4 linked regions of the Homo sapiens genome follow. The protein of the gene in region 1 purifies or fractionates together with the protein of each later gene. This does not show direct contact. Each region holds a gene or a part of one and is shown in the gene's direction. Other genes may lie near its edges.

What was found.
Region 2: the proteins of IRAK4 (region 1) and RNF152 purify together in Homo sapiens (affinity purification with western blotting, with the first as the bait; one study listed by BioGRID). This does not show direct contact.
Region 3: the proteins of IRAK4 (region 1) and SASH1 purify together in Homo sapiens (affinity purification with western blotting, with the first as the bait; one study listed by BioGRID). This does not show direct contact.
Region 4: the proteins of IRAK4 (region 1) and ALDH5A1 purify together in Homo sapiens (affinity purification with mass spectrometry; one large-scale study listed by BioGRID and IntAct). This does not show direct contact.

The regions. Positions count from the first base shown.
Region 1 is NC_000012.12:43,775,947-43,779,564, forward strand, and holds part of IRAK4 (interleukin-1 receptor-associated kinase 4), read left to right. Parts: intron 1-1,683; coding exon 1,684-1,798; intron 1,799-2,246; coding exon 2,247-2,356; intron 2,357-3,618.
Region 2 is NC_000018.10:61,810,271-61,813,108, reverse strand, and holds part of RNF152 (E3 ubiquitin-protein ligase RNF152), read left to right. Parts: 3' UTR 1-2,838. UniProt on the Homo sapiens protein: E3 ubiquitin-protein ligase that acts as a negative regulator of mTORC1 signaling by mediating ubiquitination of RagA/RRAGA and RHEB.
Region 3 is NC_000006.12:148,349,232-148,352,849, forward strand, and holds part of SASH1 (SAM and SH3 domain-containing protein 1), read left to right. Parts: intron 1-3,618. UniProt on the Homo sapiens protein: Is a positive regulator of NF-kappa-B signaling downstream of TLR4 activation. It acts as a scaffold molecule to assemble a molecular complex that includes TRAF6, MAP3K7, CHUK and IKBKB, thereby facilitating NF-kappa-B signaling activation.
Region 4 is NC_000006.12:24,518,882-24,522,499, forward strand, and holds part of ALDH5A1 (succinate-semialdehyde dehydrogenase, mitochondrial isoform 2 precursor), read left to right. Parts: intron 1-1,519; coding exon 1,520-1,663; intron 1,664-3,618. UniProt on the Homo sapiens protein: Catalyzes one step in the degradation of the inhibitory neurotransmitter gamma-aminobutyric acid (GABA).

The DNA.
Region 1 (3,618 bases):
TCTTGGCTCACTGCAAGCTCCGCCTCCCAGGTTCACGCCATTCTCCCGCCTCAGCCTCCAGAGTAGCTGGGACTACAGGCGACCGTCACCATGCCCGGCTAATTTTGTTTTTGTATTTTTAGTAGAGACGGGGTTTCACCACGTTAGCCAGGATGGTTTAGATCTGACGTCGTGATCTGCCTGCCTCGGCTGGGAATACAGGCGTGAGTCACTGCGCCCGGCCTATTATTACAATTTTTTAATAAGTGCCAGTCTCTGGATCTTACTAGCAGAATGAACTTGGCCAAGTTTTTTAACTTTCTATTCGTTAATTTTCTCATCTATAAAATGGGACAATAGTACTTACTTAAGTTATTGTGAGGATTAAATAAAACAGATAAATCACTTGCCACACTGCCTCGTTTATAGTATAAATTCAGCAAACGTTAACTACTCATGTTTAAAATGTGCCAGTTTGGTGGAAAATGGGACACTTACTGTTTTAATTTGCACTTCTTCAAATATTTATGAGACTAGAAGAAATTGATATAATGAACTGCTAGAATTGTGGATCATTTTGAATGAACAAAATGAATAAGCACTTAAATAATAAAACACTTATCATGTGCCAGATACGTTTCTAGGCTGTCATGTTTACATTTGCTCATTTAATTGTCTCAGCATCCATATTACATACTGTTTTCTGCATTTAGCAGATAAAGGAGCTGAGGCTCAGTAAGGCTGTTAACTTGCGGTAGGTCACATATCCAGGAGGGGGCAGAACTAGACTTTAAATTTAGGATGTATAACTCTGAGCCCTGTTTTCTTTCGTCTTACCACAGATGCTGCCACTTTATTAGATTGTAGGTCTCTTTAGTTTTATTACTCTCAAGTATATAAAGACACTCAAATTAGGTTATAAATAATCCAGTGTGATTAAAGATCAAAAACATGTAAATTAGATGTGATTCAAGATCATGTCTGTAAATCAGTGCTTTGAGTGTGTTAGAAAATTCTTGACAGTATTAGCATAAAAATTCAACGGACTTCTTGAAATCTTATTTGTGCCATCATTGAAAATTGGGCTAAAGAAAGTGAGCATCAGCCTAGTCCTTAACCAAACTTATCACAAGTTCCAAAAATCTGAATTATTTAGCTTTTACTGTAAAATAGAAAGAGGTTTGGCCAGCTGTAGTGGCTCACACCTGTAATCCCAATACTTTGGGAGGCCAAAGTGGTAGGAGCACTTGAGGCCAGCAGTTTGAGACCAGTCTGGGAAACACAGTGAGACCTCATCTTTACAAAAAAATTTAAAAAGTAGCTGAGTGTGGTGTACACCAGTAGTCCAAGCTACTTGGGAGGATGAGTTAGGAGGATCACTTGAGTCCAGATGGTCGAGGCCGCAGTGAGCTATGATTACACCACTGCACTCCAGCCTGGGCAACAGAGTTAGACCCTGTCTCAAAAAAAAGAAAAAGAGGTTTTACTTCTAATGTTGATTAATACTGGCTGAAAAGAGAAGTATTTGCAGAAAATTATAAACAGTTACAATAAACATATATAAACATAAACATCAAGTTAGAAATAATATATAACATACTATTTTTTTGCTCTTTTTTTCTATTAAAACTTTGAATAACTTCCAACCTATAGCTGAATATATATTTATTATAATAATTTTGCATGAAAAATTATTTGTCACAGGTGTCAACATGAAAACTTAGTAGAACTACTTGGTTTCTCAAGTGATGGAGATGACCTCTGCTTAGTATATGTTTACATGCCTAATGGTTCATTGCTAGACAGACTCTCTTGCTTGGTAAGCTATTTGTTCATCAGATTGTTTGGCTTTTTGTTTATATGCTGGAATATTAATATTCATTTTGTTACTGGATTATTTAAACCAAATTCACTTTCATATTTTTCCTGCTCTATGAAAATTATACAGTTGATATGTCAACAAATTATACAGTTGATATGTCAACAACTGGGTTGCCATTTTATTAGGTGGTAATCTTAAATGTAGAATTCAGTTAAGACTATACTAGGAAGATGCTTTTATATATTTTTATCTTCAAATAACAAATGTAAACACCCATTTGAGCTTATTTAGATATTATTTTTAATAACTTAAAAATGTAGTCCTAAATTATTAATGCTATAACATCATCTTCAGTTGTTGCCTAGAAAAATATTCTGTGTTATATATTCTCTGTAGATTTTTTATTATTCTTTCTCATTTTTAATTTGGTTTATTTCTTTATAAGGATGGTACTCCACCACTTTCTTGGCACATGAGATGCAAGATTGCTCAGGGTGCAGCTAATGGCATCAATTTTCTACATGAAAATCATCATATTCATAGAGATATTAAAAGGTAAATGCTACTGTTTAAAAGTTTTTGGAAAGCTGTCTTTAAAGAATAATTTGCTGTCACTCTATTCACGATTCATATGCAGGTCTTAACCTAGAGCATCTGGACTTTTTTCCCATCACTCCATGAAAGCTCTTCTCAATAAGGACATCTATAATCTCCTTTATTCCAAGCCCAGTGACCTACTTCCAGTACTCATCCTACTTGACCTTTTTTGTTTGTTTTAATAGTAGTTTATTCTGTTCTTCTTGACACTTTTGCCTTATGGAAATTAGTTGTTTTCTTAGTTTATGGATCACTATTCTTTTCTGAATCACCTTCATCCTCCATGAGTACTTTTCAGTTCTCTTTCTTTCTTGTGTATTTATCTAGTTAAATATTTACCTACTATAAGTAACATATTCATATATAGAGCTCAACATCAATCAAATAAGCACAAAATAATTATAGAATGTTAATATGTACAGTTCACATATATATTATATGTATTATTATTATATAGTATAGTACATAGGATTAATATAAAGAAGGGTTTCCAAGAAAGTGACATTTAAGCAGAGATTCAAAGAATGGGCAGGAAATAAGTAGACACAATTTGAGGGTAACTGTAGAATGGATGATGGGGAGAAGAACATTCTAGGCAGAAGGAACTGCATTTGTAAGACCAGTGGTGAGACAGAATATGGGAGCATGATGAGTTACAAGAAATGAAATATGCTTTGGGAGCCAAGATAGGAGGATCATTTGAGGCCAGGAGTAGCAGACCTGACTATGTTCCCTGAACAACATAGCAAGACCTCATCTCTACAAAAAAACTAGTCAAACGTGGTATTGCATGCCTACAGTTCCAGACACTAGGGCAGCTGAGGAGGGAGGAGGCTTGAGCCCAGGAGTTCAAGGTTGAAGTGAGCTATGATCGTGCCAGTGCTCCCCAGCCTGGGTAATAAAGTAAGACTCTGTCTAAAAAAAAATGAAGTAAATGCAGTATGACTGAGATGCAGAAAGTTATAGGGTGGTGGATTGGAGATAAAACTACAGAGAAGTGTAGGAAGCTAAGTCCTATAGGACTTAATAGATCAAGGTAAGGCTTTTAGTTTTATCACAAGTGTAATGAGATGCCGTTGAAAATTTTAAGTAGGAATATGGCATCATATTTAAGTTTTGCAAAGATGATTTTAACTCTAGTGTAGAGAACAGTTTGTAAGAAGAGGCAGTTAGTAGGCTATCATAGGTGGCAGTTCATAAGAAGAGAGGGGAGCAGATTA
Region 2 (2,838 bases), on another chromosome or scaffold:
GGATTCATACTTGCACATTAATGAAAAGTCACAACTGGAAAGCACAGAAAGAGCTGAAAGCAGCCTCCGGTGGCTTCATTTTGTAGATGAGTCCGTTTTGTAATTCTGCAGAAAGGGGGGGATATGAACTTCGCACTGCAGTGTCTTCTTGCTCCATCCTAGGTCTGTCTATATCTCTATCTGGCTATGATCCTTTCTAGGGTTGATGAATACCCTTTACTGAGTCAACTATTGCTTTAAAGAATTTTTTTTGTAGGTTTATGTACTCATTTTAGTTAGCATCTACCTCTCTGGGAAAATGAAAGGAGGGTTGACTTAGGGATGAGTATAGATGTTGAAAGACAACTATCAAACCATGTGGTTTGAATTTTTAAAATTGTAAAACATTGGTGTCCAAACCTCCCACCCCACTTGTATGTAAAGGACAGTGAGTGTTGTATAAATAGTAAACTATAAGAAGCATGAATTTTCATCTTTATTAATGATCTTGAAATAAGGAAGAGAATGCTTAATATGTTAAGTAGAGCCAAGAATGCTACTAAGAAGCATTGTCTTTGGAAAAATTTTGTATAATGACTTGGGGCATAAGTTGTGATGAAAAGGCAACTTGGTTTTTGGTTCCAGTCATACTTAATGATCAGAAAGCTCTAAGATGTTTTCTTTAAAAATAGAATTAAGTTTAATTTTTTGCATGGCTTACAGATTGGGTCCCTTGAAGGTTAAACCATGTGATGGTATAACCTGTGAGATCTTCTAGATTGGCACTGTTCAATAGGGCTTTCTGTGATGATGGAAATGCTCGAAAACCTGTGCCGTCTGGTACGGTAGCCACCAGGCACATTGACTTTTAGGCAGTTAAAATGGGGTTACTACAAGGGAAGAACTGGATTTCAAATTTTATTTAATTTTAATTAGCTTAAATTTAAATAGCCCTATGTGTCTAGTGGCTGCCATATTGAACGATGCAGTTCTGGGTGATAGCGCTTGGGGATCCAGCATCAAGGTATTAATGGAGTAACAGTGAGGCTAAGGTGAGAGTTTGTGGGCTAGTGACATGCAGTTGGCAAAAGGCAAAACATTCCTTTCTGGGCTTAAAAAGTATGTGATCTCAAGTATGACAGTAAAAATTCATTGTTGCCCTTTGGAACTGTTGCTTATAGATTTTAGGCCAAGGAATGATCAGTGAAGCTTAAAGAATGCTTTATTAAGCCCCTTTTCTGGGATCATTAGCTGCATGTTAACCTATTGTCCAAAAATAGTAGTTAGACAGTACCTGTAAAACGTTTGACTTGCAAGCTATGCATGATCTGTACTGTGAAATTGTGTCTAGGGTCTTGTGGCCAAAAAGTAAATGTTACAGGAAAAAAAAAGCCTAATGAAATCCCTGTTCACTTCCAGTATCCTATCCAAACTTCATTGCTGTATTAGTAAGGTGCAAATATAAGAGCAAGCATGTTTTGCAGTGTTCAGACTGGTTTTGTTTGCCCTTGAAGTTGGCCAGCTTGTCGTTGTATTTGGTGTGGGCATATGTGGGCATCATTTTTCAGATGCCAAACTAAAATGTAGGTAGTATTTTTAGAATGAGATTTGACATTGTTTTAGTGTCTTTCTTTTTTAAGCAAAAATTTCAGTTATCCCTGAAAGAGTTGAAGATTTGAAGCTTTGCACAAAAGCACTTTTTTTAACAGTAAAAAATACTGCCCATGAAATTTAAAGACTTGAAGTTTACTAAAGCTACAATAATTACTTTTTAGCTAAATAAAAGGAAGCAGAAAATTCAGTTTGAGATATATTTCCTATAAAGACCAGATTCTTACTGATAATCTGGTATTTATTCCAGTCTAGATTTTGATTTTAAGAGTTCCCATCCCTTTATTTGAAAACTTATGTTGTTTCAAAATTGGTTAGTCTGCTTTTCATTGTTTTCCAAATGGAATATATACAAAATACATTTACTTCATTTTAGCAGAAATGGGTTGATTTTTTTTTTCTAGAACTCATCAATGTGCAAGACTTTCCTTCTTAGCTTGCCTTTAAAAATCATTTAATTTTTTTTTTTTTGCCAAGATACTAATCTTTCTTTAGCCTTAATAGGAAGATAGAAGTTCAAAAGTTATCGGTGCAAAAGGAGTGATACACAAAAGACTTCAATTTCTATCTTTTCTCAGAAAAGTGATGCTGCCCACCAGTCAGCATTTTGTTTCCACATAAGAAGTGTCAGGTAGTCAGTCTGTCATCCCTGACTTAGATAGAGAAGCTGTTCCTTGACATTTCCATCATTCTCAGTAAATTGTCACCTACAAGGTAATTCTTACCAAAACAGAAACTATTGAGAATAATAAGATAGTCGAGATAATTCAGTAGCTGTTTTGAAAGTAGTAGTCTATTTAAAAAGCAACGATGTTCAGTTGCTGGATTTTGTTCAACATGAGACACTTATTTATTTATTTATTTATTTATGAGATGGAGTTTTGCTCTTGGTGCCCAGGCCAGAGTGCAATGGCATGATCTCAGCTCACTGCAACCTCCGCCTCCCAGGTTCAAGCTATTCTCCTGCCTCAGCCTCCTGAGTAGCTGGGATTATAGGCATGCGCCTCCATGCCCAGCTAATTTTGTATTTTTTAAAGTAGAGACGGGGTTTCTCCATGTTGGTCAGGCTGGTCTCCAACTTCTGACTTCAGGCGATCCACCCGCCTCGGCCTCCCAAAGTGCTGGGATTACAGGCATGGGCCACTGCACCCAGCCAACATGAAACACTTCTAAAAGATAAGTGGAAATTCAAGCCATTGATTTTTCTGACACAACTGACTTACTACACACACACACACACACACACCA
Region 3 (3,618 bases), on another chromosome or scaffold:
TCATTCTTTCTTCTTTCTTTCTTTTTTTTTTTTTTTTTTTTTTTTTTTTTGAGTGAGTCAAACTCTGTTGCCCAGGCTGGAGTTACAGTGGCGCGATCTCGGCTCACTGCAACCCTCAACCTTCCAGGTTCAAGCAATTCTCCTGCCTCAGCCTCCCAAGTGGCTGGGATTACAGGCATCTGCCACCATGCCCGGCTAATTTTTGTATTTTTAGTAGAAATGGGTTTTCACCATATTGTCCAGGCTGGTCTTGAACTCCTGACCTAAGGTGATCTGCCTGCCTCGGCCTTCCAAAGTGCTGGGATTACAGGCGTGAGCCACGACGCCCGCCCGGCCAGAAAAGTAACTTTTGTAGGCGATGGGGTGGCAATGAGGTTGGAGGGAAGGAGACTACTTTAGTGACCCAGGCAGGGATAGTGAGAGCCCCAACCAGATGTTTCTGTGTCGAGTCATTACCTGTCCTCTGGCTGCCTGAGGCCCAACACTTTGTACAGTCTCTAAAGTAATCAAGACTGCTCCATGGTAACTTTCTTTTGATAATTCTTTTATGCTCAAGAGTGGGCTGAGTTAATGCAAGACATTTTAGAGATGTCGTATGCCTTGTGATTTTCTTTTTTTCTTTTTTTTTTTTTGAGACGGAGTCTCGCTCTGTCGCCCAGGCTGGAGTACAGTGGTGTGATCTCGACTCGCTGCAAGCTCCTCCTCCCGGGTTCATGTCATTCTCCTGCCTCAGCCTCCTGCGCAGCTGGGACTACAGGCGCCTGCCACCACGCCCGGCTAATTTTTTGTATTTTTAGTAGAGATGGGGTTTCACCGTGTTAGCCAGGATGGTCTCGATCTCCTGACCTCGTGATCCACTCACCTCGGCCTCCCAAAGTGTTGGTATTACAGGTGTGAGCCACCGCGCCCGGCAGATTTTCTTTCTCTCTAAAGGAAAAGGCGGCCAGGCACAGCGCCTCACACCTGTAATCCCACTGCTTTGGGAGGCCAAGGCTGGAGGATCGCTTGAGGCCAGGAGTTAGACCAGCCTGGGTAACATAGCGAGATCTCATCTGTAATTCTTATTAAAGAAAAAAGAAAAAAGTATCTATCCATGTATATATGTACAAATATTTGTATACCTGTCTCTCTATACTGATAGAATGTGGTTCCTTAAAAGGGGGAATTATTATTTATAACAATATGCACACCACTGAAAGATCTTTAAATCATTCTTTTAAAAGCTAATTGTAGAGTACAGTGAAATAGTGGGAAATATGTAGTTCAATGCAAATTTATTCATTTGCAAATCCGTAGCTCAATTTTACAAAGGATGTAAGAGGAAAAACTATTGTTTATCTAATGTGTCCTTTTTAAGAGTGCTGTGGTGCTACCTGATTGTTTCGTGTCTAAGACTTGACTGTCATAATCCCACTGTAATAGACGATGTGCCTACCTGTGGTTGACACACATTCTTGGCATTAGTAAAAATGAAATTGGTCTCAAAAGAGTGAATCTAAATGGACAGAGACTGACTCTCACTATCAGTGATACCATTTAATACCTGTGAGTACAGACTGAGACTACAAGAATTAACTAAACCTTCAGACTAATTTTGAGATAAAATGTATTTTTTGAGTACATAAATTGTCATTTTTCAAATGATATGCTCATCTATTTATTAATTCACTTTTGTAAGAAGACCTGAAAATGGTAGGTCTCTTCCTCATTAGCTTTGCTCCTAGCCAGATGTTGAACGTCCCTTCTTTTGTTCTCTGAAGTGTTTCACTGGGCAGCATTAATTCTTTATGAGGAGAGATGCTTCACAGAGATAACCTATCTTGTATCTTTCCTGCCATGTCAAGTCATGTAATACAGACATCTCCATCCTGGAGACTGGGTATCCAGGCATTATGGTAACTCTGAGACTCAGAAGACAAACGCTTGAGAAAGGGCTAGTATTTCCTTTCTGCGATAGTAGTTTTTTTTTTTTTTTTTTTTTTTCTGAAAGGCTCTTCTATGGCTTTCAAGATGATTGGTGAAAATGGAAATATATTTGTATTTATGTTTGTTTTTCAAGATGATTGGTGAAAACGGAAATATATTTGTATTTATGTTTGCTCTTCAGACTAATGTTCTCTGTGTTCACAGAGATACATTGCAGTTCTCCTTGGGTGTCTGATGCAAGTTCCATTCATGGTTGATTTTGATGTTTCATTCACTATTTGCTAGATTCCTTTTGCAGCAAGTAGTGAGTGAGGAAGTTTCCATGTGTCCACCCATCACTCTGCCTGGTTGTGGCTTCCTTCTTTCTCCTAGCATGAGGTAGTAAGAAAGAAAATAAAAGCATTATAAGAATCACATGATTTTTAAGTAAAGAGCCATTGAGGAGCAGAATAAAAAATCTTGGGATATGCCCTGAGCCCTAGTTACTCACCGCTTTTTTTTTTTTTTTTTTTAACTGCCCTTAATCTAGTAGGACCTAGTTTCCTTTAAAATGTATCCTAAGCACCCTTGACTTTGTTGACTTTAATAATAATTTTGTATTGGTCTTGCTGTCAGCCAACAATTGTTTTTAACCTAGAGCTAAAACATGTTTATGTGTGTGTGTGCTTTAAAAATTTAGTGTTTCAACATTAAATTATTTGTAGAGGAAAGGAATACTCTAGTTCAAGAATATGTATCTTTGCTATAGGAGTTTGTCTTTGTCTGTTTTCATAGGATTTTAAGGACCTCCTTTGTGAAATAAACCATTAACAACTTTGTAGCATTCCTTGTTTGGAAATGCCCAGTCTTTTAAAAAAAAAGTTTTGAAAGAGAAGAGTAACAACCTTAATCTGTGAGTTAAAACATTTAGAAACAAACAAACAAAAGTTAATTGAACATCTCTTAGAAAACTGATAGGTAGAATAGTAAAGTAGTTAAGAGCAAAGGAACTATTTTAGGTTGTTTGAGTTCAAATTGTGGCTTTAACCCTTACCGGACATGTGACCTGGGTGAGTTATTTAATTATTCTGTACCTCAGTTTCCTTATCTGTAAAATGAGGTTAACAGTCACCAACATCATTGGGTTCTCATGAGGATTATTTAAATAATGAGAACAAAGGCCAGGCTTGGTGGCTCACGCCTGTAATCCCAGCATTTTGGGAGGCCAAGGCGGTGGATCACCTAAAGTCAGGAGTTCAAGACCACCCTGGCCAACATAGTGAAACCCCATCTCTACCAAAAATACAAAAATTAGCCAGGCATAGTGGCAGGCGCCTGTAGTCCCAGCTACTTAAGAGGCTGAGGCAGGAGGATTGCTTGAACCCAGGAGGTGGAGGTTGCAGTGAGCCAAGATCACACCACCGTACTCCAGCCTGGGAGACAGAGTGAGACTCCTTCTTATAAATAAATAAATAAATAAATAAATAAATAAATAAATAAATAAATAGAACTGTGCATGACATACGATGAGCAGTTCATAAATGTGAGTTATTGGCTGGGTACGGTGGCTCATGCCTGTAATTCCAGCACTTTGGGAGGCCGAGGCAGGTGGATCACCTGTCAGGAGTTCAAGACCGGCCTGGCCAACATGGCGAAACCCCACCTCCACTAAAAATACAAAAATTAGCCAGGTGTGGTAGTGGGCACTTGTAA
Region 4 (3,618 bases), on another chromosome or scaffold:
GGTCCCATCTTTCCTGCAGCCATGACTAGACAAAGACCTACTATCCTTAATAAAGCATTTAAACATCCCTAAGCAGCTTCTTAGGCTATGAAATCTCTTACTGGATATTTAAACTATAATAGCTATAGGTACCAAAAGCCTTATGATTATACATTGAGCTAGCAATTCTACATGTTCATCCTGACAGAATCATCACAGTGTTTTTGTCTTTTGTTTTGTTTTGTTTTTGAGATGGAGTCTCGCTCTGTAGCCCAGGCTGGAGTGCAGTGGCGCGATCCACAGCGTTTTTTTAATGGCAAGGATGGAAACAACCTAAATGTCCAACAGATGGGGCCTGAATAAATAAATTACAGAAGAGCCATGCAGTGGAATACTATGCAAGCATCTAAAGGAATGTTCTAGGCCGGGCACAGTGGCTCACACCTGTAATCCCAGCACTTTGGGAGGCTGAGGCAGACAGATCACTTGAGGTCAGGAGTTCAAGACCAGCCTGGCCAACATGACGAAACCCCATCTCTACTAAAAATACAAAAATTAGCCAGGTGTGGTGGCACATGTCTGTAATGCCAGCTACTCAAGAGGCTGAGGCTGAAGAATTGCTTGAACCCAGAAGGTGGAGGTTGCAGTAACTGGAGATTGCGCCACTGCACTACAGCCTGGGCAACAGAGCGAGACTCCATCTCAATAATAATAATAAATAAAGTTCTAGAAACATATGTGCTGACACAAGAGGATCTTCACATTAGAGTGTTACATTAAAGGAGCAAGATATAAAGGGTTATGAAAATTTTAAGATAGACGTCCCAAATATGTGATTCATTGGGAAGATAAAGCAGGTTACGAAACGGTATAATTATATAATTATACCATCCTGTTTTTTTTTTTTTAAATGTACATGTACCTGAATCTGCATGGCTACATTCTAAATGGATGTACTTTAAAATGTTATCAGTGTAAGCTGTGGGTTGTGGGATTCTAGGTGATTTTATTTTCTTATCTCTATGATTTTTAAGCCCATCATATAATTGTTTTGAATAGATAAACACTTACTTATATGGTTGAAAAATTAAGACAGTATTAATGTTTACCATGACAAGTCTCACCCTACCCCAACCCTGACTCACTCCCTCTTTCTATAAATAATGACTTTTAGTGTCTTGTCATCCCAGTGTTTATTTTACTAATTTATTTATTTATTTAATTTTTGAAATGGAGTCTCCCTATGCTGCCCAGGCTGGTCTGGAACCCCTGGCCTCAAGTAATCCTCCCACTTCAGCCTCTTAAGGTGCTGGGACTACAGGTGCACACTACCACACCCAGCCTCTTCCCAATGTTTCTTTATCAAATACAAGCAAATGTAAATATATATTCTTATTTCTCCGTTTTCTTATGCAAAGTTATCCCATGTACACCACTGTGCACCTTGCTTTTTTCACCATTTGGTAATTTTTTTAAACAAAGGCTTAACAATCCTGGTAATGGATTTCTGTGCTCACAGCTTTCTCTCCTCTGCTCACAGATCCTGTTGCACCACGCAGCAAACTCTGTGAAAAGGGTCTCTATGGAGCTGGGCGGCCTTGCTCCATTTATAGTATTTGACAGTGCCAACGTGGACCAGGCTGTAGCAGGGGCCATGGCATCTAAATTTAGGAACACTGGACAGGTGAGTCCTGGAGAGTATTTCAGGATGTGTGTTTGCGTGTGCATGTGTGAGTGTGTGTATGTGTGTGTGTGTGATATGTGTGCATGTGAGTGTGTGTGTGTGTGCGTGTGTGTGTGTTACAAAGATCCCACCACCTCTACTGCCTTATATCCCATAAGGAAACTTTTGGGTTCCTTCCATTATTCATTCTTTATTCATTGACTCTTTCAGCAAATATTTAGTATATGCCTTACTTTTTATTACCAGGGTTATACTAGGCTCAGAGGGGCCCCCCCAAAATAAGGTACAGTCCCTGGCTTCAAATAATTTTCTGAACAGCAGATGTCCTTTAGTCAAATTGTTCTCTGTTTTCTTCTTTCCCCTATCCTTTTAATCTGGTTATTTTTATAGTTTTCTTTCATTGATCTTTTTTCTACTGAACGGATATAATCTCCTCAGACACAGAACAGCCTTGAACAATTGGGGTCTCTGAGGCCAAGGGAAAGAAAGTAAGAAAATGTTGAGGAGGGTGGTGGCTGGAATAACTCAAAACCCTGTTGCCTGCTATGACCCAGTGGGGCCTCGCTGTCCCGAGATGGAGGGAGCCTCAGAGGTGCCCTCTACAGGGCACAGGCCCACGCCAGCAGTGTTTTAGAGGAGCATCCAGGCTGTCCTGGGAGACCAGAGGCCTGAGCTCATGTCTTCCTAGGAAATCCTGGAATATTTGATCTGTCAGGGACCTTCACAGTTATCAGCTCTACAAACGTTGCATTTTAGAGATGAGGAAATGAAACTCTAGAAAGAAAAAGTGACTTAGAGATCAGACGTCTTTGGGCCACAGTGTCAAATCTGCTGAGGAGCTGGGACTCTGAGCCAAGGCTCCTGTCTTCCAGTTCTATCCAAGCTGCTGCCAGGGTCCTGCCTTCTTAAATATTCTTAAGCATTCATCTTAAAAGTACCATCAATATGTAATTTTAAATGCATTCTAGAAACAGAGTAAATATCCCTGAAAGGTTATATTGTGAAAAAACTGAAATGTGTGATATTCTCTATCAAATAATTTTCATCCTTGCCTTGGCCTTTGGTAATTAAGTTTTTCCCTTCCACATAACCTAAATAAGCTTGGTTTTGTCTGAAATAAGTATATTTTCCTTCATAAATACAAAATGTCAATATATGTTACCATCAATTACACTGTAAGGCTACAACTTGGGGACAGGTATGGTGGCTCAGAACTGTAATCCCAGCATTTTGGGAGGCCAAAGCAGGAGGATCACTTGAGCCCAGGAGTTGGAGACCAGCCTGGGCAACAGAGTGAGACTCTGTCTCTACAATTTTTTTTTTTTTTTTTTTTTTTTTGTGTGACAGAGTCTCACTCTGTTGCCCAGGCTGAAGTGTAGTGGCATGATGTCAGCTCACTGCAACCTCCACCTCCCGGATTCAAGAGATTCTCCTGCCTCAGCCTCCTGAGTAGCTGGGACTACAGCTAATTTTTCTATTTTTAGTAGAGATGGGTTTCACTATGTTGGCCAGGCTAGTCTCGAACTCCTGACCTTAGGTGATCCACCCACCTCAGCCTCCCAAAGTGCTGGGGTTACAGGCATGAGCCACTGCGCCCAGCCAAAAAAAATTAAAAATTAGCTGGGCATGGTGGCAAGTGCCTATAGTCCCACCTACTTGGGAGGCTGAGGTGGAAGAATCACTTGAGCCCTGGAGGTCAAGGCTGCAGTGAACTCATCACTACTGCACTCCAGCCTGGGCGACAGAGCGAGACCCTGTGTCAGCAAAACAAAAGACTATAAGTTGGTGTTGGACCACATTCCTCTTAGCCTCTGCTGTTGCTGCAGCATCACAGTCTCCTAGGAGAATTGCACTCTTTCCCCACCCCCCAGGGAAACAAAATAAAAGCCATTTGAAAAAAACATGGATTGGGTGGCTTTTTTTTCTTTTCTTTCGTGTGTGTGTGTGTGTGTGTG